Linked DNA regions of Homo sapiens. The protein of the gene in region 1 purifies or fractionates together with the protein of each later gene. This does not show direct contact. Each region holds a gene or a part of one and is shown on either strand. Other genes may lie near its edges.

What was found.
Region 2: the proteins of BGLAP (region 1) and P3H2 purify together in Homo sapiens (affinity purification with mass spectrometry; one large-scale study listed by BioGRID and IntAct). This does not show direct contact.

Annotation. Positions count from the first base shown.
Region 1 is NC_000001.11:156,240,684-156,243,817, reverse strand, and holds BGLAP (osteocalcin preproprotein), read right to left. Parts: upstream 1,635-3,134; 5' UTR 1,587-1,634; coding exon 1,523-1,586; intron 1,266-1,522; coding exon 1,227-1,265; intron 1,057-1,226; coding exon 987-1,056; intron 786-986; coding exon 656-785; 3' UTR 501-655; downstream 1-500. Other genes in the region: PMF1-BGLAP protein, read right to left, coding at 735-785, 987-1,056, 1,227-1,265. UniProt on the Homo sapiens protein: Bone protein that constitutes 1-2% of the total bone protein, and which acts as a negative regulator of bone formation. Functions to limit bone formation without impairing bone resorption or mineralization. It binds strongly to apatite and calcium.
Region 2 is NC_000003.12:189,970,586-189,974,604, reverse strand, and holds part of P3H2 (prolyl 3-hydroxylase 2 isoform a precursor), read left to right. Parts: coding exon 1-47; intron 48-600; coding exon 601-696; intron 697-1,580; coding exon 1,581-1,731; intron 1,732-2,597; coding exon 2,598-2,715; intron 2,716-3,713; coding exon 3,714-3,789; intron 3,790-4,019. UniProt on the Homo sapiens protein: Prolyl 3-hydroxylase that catalyzes the post-translational formation of 3-hydroxyproline on collagens. Contributes to proline 3-hydroxylation of collagen COL4A1 and COL1A1 in tendons, the eye sclera and in the eye lens capsule.

The DNA.
Region 1 (3,134 bases):
GGGGTCCTTTCATCTGGCTCCGTTTCTGGTGCTTCTGGAAGTCTCTGCTCAGCACAGGGAAGAACTAACACGACTAACCTAGGCCTACCCTGAATGCTTCTTGCTAACCAGGCCGAGAGGCCACACACTTGCCCCCCCATCCCCACAAACCAGGTAATGCCAGTTTGCCAGCAGCTATTTGCCTATAGAGATGAGTCTGTCCTGGTCATAACTGTGTGCTCAAGGTGTCCAGGCTTTTGGGGGTGGGCCTATCTGGGTGCATTATGGATGGTTTGGTGGATTGAGGTGTGGGGAGGAGGGTCCTAGGCTAGAGGGGGTATCCCTAGTTAGACTTTGGGAAGCCACCTTCAACGTTTTCTGGAACAAGGCAGGTACAAATAAAAAAATAAAACTTTGGAAAGCACTTTCTAGAACTGAAGAAGGTAAAACCTCCTCACCCCCATCCTCCTGACACCTCCCTCCCACACTCCATAAACTGGACAGACTCACAGGCCCACAGATTCCTCTTCTGGAGTTTATTTGGGAGCAGCTGGGATGATGGGGACCCCACATCCATAGGGCTGGGAGGTCAGGGCAAGGGCAAGGGGAAGAGGAAAGAAGGGTGCCTGGAGAGGAGCAGAACTGGGGTTGCCGGCCAGGCCAGCAGAGCGACACCCTAGACCGGGCCGTAGAAGCGCCGATAGGCCTCCTGAAAGCCGATGTGGTCAGCCAACTCGTCACAGTCCGGATTGAGCTCACACACCTCCCTCCTGGGCTCCAGGGGATCCGGGTAGGGGACTGGGGCTCTGAGACACCCGACGTGGTGGCATCAGCCCCCGTGCAAAATGCCCATCCCTCCTCTCCCTACACATGGGGCTCCAGGGTGCCCACCAGGGCAGGCTGCCTGTACCCCCACCACAACCCAGAGAGGCCACTCCCTGCTGCAGCTCCCCCACAGACCATCCCGGAGAGGCAGGGCCTTGGCCCAGCTCTGCCTTTTCTCTCACCCCAGCCATTGATACAGGTAGCGCCTGGGTCTCTTCACTACCTCGCTGCCCTCCTGCTTGGACACAAAGGCTGTGGAGCAGAGGGGCAGGCATCAGGTGGCTCTGGGTTTGGGAGGATCAGGTGGGGAGCAGGCTGGCCTTCCTGATGGCCAGACAGGAGGTGGCAGGAGTGGGGGAATGAGACTGAGGGACCAGGGTGAGAGGGGAGGGTCCAGGAACCCATCAGGTCCATCCTCATACCTGCACCTTTGCTGGACTCTGCACCGCTGGGCTTCGCACCTGCAAAGGAAAGGGAGCCTGGTTCACCCCAGCTCATCCCCAGGGCCCTCATCCTCCTTCCCCTGCGTCTCGGGCAGCTTGCTCTTCCCTCCTCTCCCTCTGCAAGGGCAGAGCTGGGGCAAATGGATTGAGCCTGCAACAAGGTGGTTAGACTGCAAAGGGACTGCCAGCCAAAGGGGTGAGAAGAGGTGGGCCATGGTGCTTCCTCCTCTCAGCCCCCACTGCAATGCGGCCTGAGGGGAGGTGGGGGCACTCACCTGCCTGGCCAGCGATGCAAAGTGCGGCCAGGGCCAATAGGGCGAGGAGTGTGAGGGCTCTCATGGTGTCTCGGTGGCTGCGCTGGGCTGCTGCTCAGGACTCAGCTGGCCTGCCCCGCCAGCCTCCAGCACTGTTTATACCCTCTGGGCTGTGCCCAGCGATGAGGAGGGGCATGCCTGACCATGGTGCGGGCGGGTCTAGGGGGAATCTGCCAGGGCTATTTGGGGGTCATCCGCCCCAGCTCCGTAGGCCAAACCCCAAAGGATATTGTGGTTGGGAGCTGCGGCTGCTGGGCCAGGGGCCCCTGGGAGTGATGGAGGGTGAGCCACAATCAGACTGCCCGGCTCTTGACACTGCCTCTGGCCCCTCTCTCAGGGGACAGCCCCAGACCCCTCAGCTCCAACTCACTCTTCCTCAGAGACCCCCAGCCTCAGGTTGAGCACTGGCTGAGCTCTAGGGGAGTCTAAAGAGGAAGCGGGGATCAGAGACCTAAAATAGGTTCAAGCAGAGCTGGGCTCCAGCTGTCTCACAGCCTGTGATTTCTACTGTCAGCCCCGTGGGCAGGAGCCAAACCCAGGGAGGGGATGCCTCGCAATGCCCCCGTTCACCCGGTGAGTCACCAAAGGCAGCCTGCTGTGGGTGCAGCTCGACGGCTCAGGCCCTGCCCTGCGCATCCGGACAGGAGAAAGGGTCGGGCAGCACAAACGCCAAAAGCCAAAGCCAATGGAGGTGGGGCCGGGCAGGAGATGAGGTCAGCCGGTTGGTTTCTGGGACACGCCAGGTGGCTGTGACTGCCAGGTACACAGGCACAGGGAAGGGAGGCAGGCACTGAGGTGGGGACCCCCTTCCCTGTGTCCTTAGCAGGCAGGGAGGCAGGGCCTGTGAGGAGCACGAAGATGGAGTGTGCCTCTGCCCTCCTGGCCCCACGATTCTCCTCCTGACCCTGCAGCCTCCAGTGTTAAACACCCTGGGGAGGGACCTGCCCTCCCGTAGTGCTCCGATAAGTAATAGGAAGGCCTATCCTCTACGGTACAGAACATCCCAGCCTGAAAACCCCATCCCACACCTGAGAGCCTCCACTGCCTCAGGTCAGCCCAGAGAGGGAAGACATGTCCTGGGACCTTCCCCTGTCTAACCTGTCTCCTCACTCACCCACCCACCAACCAGGGCTTGAGACCATCTGCCCAACCTGACAAGTAAACAAAGCACCCGACGGGGCAGGCCTGACAGAAGCAGGGCATTTGGATGCTTGAATGCCACAGCTCCATGGTGACAAGGTGGGCAGAGGGAGACTGAGCCAAGTGCCGTTTATGGGAGGGGGGTGGGAAGTTGGGACCACCTGATGCTTGCCTGTGTCCCCAGTGTGCCTCCAGCAGACCTCACCAAGGCTCTCACTAGGGAAAAGTTCTGCCCCCATACACGCCCAACCCCTTTCCCCCTCTGGTGGATCCGGGAAGCACCCATCCTGCCTTTGGCTGCCCTGGCTGAAGAAGAGTGAAGTGGAAGAAGCAAGAGAAACAAAGTGCTCGCGGTTCTTTTTTTTTGAGACGGAGTCTCGCTCTGTCGCCCAGGCAGGAGTGCAATGGTGCGATCTCGGCTCACTGCAACCTC
Region 2 (4,019 bases), on another chromosome or scaffold:
ACGTCCTGTCGGAAGAACAGTGCCGGGAGCTCCACAGCGTGGCCAGTGTGAGGATCCGGAGAAGGAGGGGAGCTCACTGCGCTGGCCTGCCAAGAAGCTGGAACTGCTTTGGTCCTGGTCTCATCTGGAGCCAGACAACAAGCCCTGAAATATTGCTTTCTTGAGGAGAAAGACATAAATTATTTTTGAGGAACTTTTATAGCCTTTGGGTTGGGATTATTTTAGTTTTCCCGGGTGGGATCTGGAATAGCTACTGGCATATTTCCTAGCCCAACAGCCATCTAGCAAGGTCCCTGCCTATCATATAAAGTTGCTGGAGAAATCCTTTTATTTTAATTAATTATTAGGCAATATATCAATAATTTACATTCTTTTTATTTCCATAAAAAGTGACAGTATTTGATAATAAAAATGTAGAATGAAGATTAAATAAAGATATCTCTTTTAATTAAAAGAATAGTTATACCAGCATCCTGGAATAAAATGGGGATGGTTCTTAGCATTGACTAGAGTTCTCAGCTTTCTGGCAGCCAAAGCAGAAAAAGACCTGATGAATTCATAGTTATCATTGATGACGTATCTTCTTGTATTTGCTTCCAGGGAATCATGCTTGTTGGTGATGGATACAGAGGAAAAACTTCACCCCATACACCCAATGAAAAGTTTGAAGGTGCAACTGTCCTGAAAGCACTCAAAGTAAAGTCTTAACTTCTTTTGGGTTTGAGTTCCTTAGTGTCAGCCTAAGGCTTCTGTAAATGGCAGATATAAGAAAGAAAAAAGTGGCCAGGCACAGTGGCTCACGCCTGTAATCCCAGCACTTTGGGAGGCTGAGGCAGGCAGATCACGAGGTCAGGAGATCGAGACCACCCTGGCTAACATGGTGAAACCCCGTCTCTACTAAAAATACAAAAAAATTAGCCAGGCATGGTAGTGGGTGCCTGTAGTCCCAGCTACTCGGGAGGCTGAGGCAGGAGAATGGCGTGAACCTGGGAGGCAGAGGTTGCGGTGAGCCGAGATCGCGCCACTGCACTCCAGCCTGGCCTGGGCGAGAGCGAGACTCCGTCTTAAAAAAAAAAAAAAAAAAAAAAAAAAAGAAAGAAAGAAAGAAAGAAAAAAGTTTTGAATATATACCTATCAGGACAGCTGAAAGAAGCAAGAGTGAAATGAAACCTTCATTGTAGTTAATCATTCCTCCGTTCAGCCATCAACTTATCAAACTTTACATTTCCTGACAAAAAATACATACAATCCCTCTTTGTAAAATCATGATCTAATAGTGAAAACATATTCAAACAAGTAATTATTCTCTACTGCAGGAAGGGTTGTTAGAGAGGATGGTAGAACATATTATAATAGAAGAGAAGAGGAACCAAGTAGCTTTTAGCTTTCCATCTGTTATTGGGAAGAGTTTATTCCAATGGCACAATGTCCTAACCGAAATCCACAAATATGTAGTAGCCTTCCCCATTAGTCAATACAGACATGACAATCCTATATTGGCTCAATGCAAGCTAGTGCCTGTTTTTCTTACGACCTCCAATGAACCCATTTGTTTCTCATGTTTTGTTTTTTTTTTTCAGTCTGGTTATGAAGGTCGAGTCCCACTGAAGAGCGCTCGTCTGTTTTATGACATCAGCGAAAAGGCTCGAAGGATTGTAGAATCTTATTTTATGCTGAACTCAACTCTGTATTTTTCCTATACACACATGGTCTGCCGAACAGCCCTGTCTGGTGAGATTGCAGTCTGAAATGGTTCCCTTTTACCCACAATACATTGGGAAATGAAACAAGGCAAAACAAAGCTCAACAGCATGGTAGATTAATATTTTAGACGAATTCTAGATTTCCAAAACAAAAGTAGCTTATGAACTCTTATTCTGCTTCTTTCTTTTTCTTCCTTTTGTTCTTCTGAAGTTCCAGAAAACCCTCGTTCTGAACATTTTCCCTTCCAAATCAATTTTCCCCAATTGCTGAAGTCTTGGGAAAAAAAAATGCTTTTCTGCTGTAGGTTTCCCATTTTGAGGAATCAGGAACATGGAAATCATAGTCACCATGATGTCTACCAGCATTAAGTGGAAGCATAGAAGATGAAGGGATGATTGAAAGAAATACTCTTAAAAAGACCGGGACCTTCTCGGTCCCTGCTCAGCATTATTTCTCCTCTATGTCTTATGCCCCTCTGAATGGGGCGGGGGGAATAATGATGTCATAGGAGTAGACTTTTACACTTGGGAAGTTTTAGCTGAATTAAATCTTGTTTTTTTAAAAAATTTTCATTTCCTTCCCATTGTTTTGCTGCCCTATGTGAAGTACAACCCATGAAACGCATGGAATTTGTTCATGTATGTTTATATCAGAAATAACTTTTATAGCTGAAGAGACAGGTGTGACATGCTCAAGGTTTCACATCCAGTTCATATCAGAACCAGACCAGAATCTCAACTACTTGTCCACTGTTCTTTTATCTGTTCTTTCCTGTTGTCTGCCTCTGCCCATTTGCAAAGATCATCAGGACTGGGAGAAGAGAGATTGTCAGTTACTTTGGTGGAAGTTGCTGCACTTCATTTCTCGTTCTTCCCTATTCCCTTTTCTGGCAGGTCAGCAGGATAGAAGAAATGACCTCAGTCATCCCATCCATGCTGACAACTGTTTGTTGGATCCAGAGGCCAACGAATGCTGGAAGGAGCCTCCTGCTTACACATTTCGAGACTATAGGTATAGCTAGAACCTGCTTCAAAACAAAGCTTTTACCTAACAGTTTTCAAGCAGTGAAAACTGGAAAGGTGCTCTGTTTTGCTTGACGTCGTGTTCATATCTCCAAGGCAGAAATTCTCAAATAATCTTCTGAAGTAGCTGCCATAACCAATAAGTGGCATTATCATCTCACTTTTATCTTAAAAATTGTGCACAGTTTGCATCCCATTTCACAAAATGTCCATTTTGTTTTAATATGAAAAGTAAATTTTATGTTCTTTTAAAAAAATTCCTGTTCTCCCTGGAACATATTCCTTGTGGTATATGTATTTCAGTCAGAATACAAGGGCATGGAGTCTTGGCCTACATAAGGACTTTATCACATCAATTATCTTTATTCATACCCAAGAAGAACTATGTCTGCATTTTATAAATAAGACACTAGAAACTCAGGAGAAAAGAATGTCCTTACCTATTGAGAGAGATTTCAGTGTGTAAGGAATCAGGAGTTATAGTCACCATGTGTTCATCCTTACTACACTGTACTCGATTCCAAAACATTTATTAAGCACCCGCTATCTGCAAGGCGTGGCTAGGCCACAAGGAACTCTTCAGCAAGTTAAAGAGAAAAACAACAACAAGAACAAAGCAAACAAACAAACAAAAATCCTTTAGAGTTATATAAGGGAAAAAGAGAGTTGTAATTAGGGTGGGCACGTTCAAAGGGCTAGATTAAATTAAAACTAGTTAGGTTTTCTGTGGAGGAAGTGAAATGTGAGACAAGCTTTGACATATGATTACAATTTTAGTAAAGGTGGAATAAGTAAACTCTTCAGAGGTATAACTCAAACTCTATCTGATCTTCTCTTTAAGAGTTTGGAGGACCAATTATATCAATGTCTAGTTCAAAGGAAACTTACTAATGGAGGCTGGACAGTACATCACCAGTCTTCAGTATTCTATGACCATGCTCTCATAAGCATATAATAATACAAATAGTTTTCTCTTCATTCTTATAGTGCTCTCCTATATATGAATGATGACTTTGAAGGAGGAGAATTCATATTCACAGAGATGGATGCTAAGACTGTGACTGTAAGTAAACCTATTCTTGAATACTTATTTAGTATGTTTTAGCTCAGTATTGCCATTTTTCTAAGTACTTACAGATGGTTAGATTTCAAATACTTCTGAGCTCAAGATTTCAAGAGGTTAAGAGAGTTTCAGTAAATGTATAGATCATAAACTGTTAGAAGTATCCATAAAAATCTAGTACGTTGTAAAGATGAGTAAATTAAAGAATTGAGATATTAATCATTTTATCA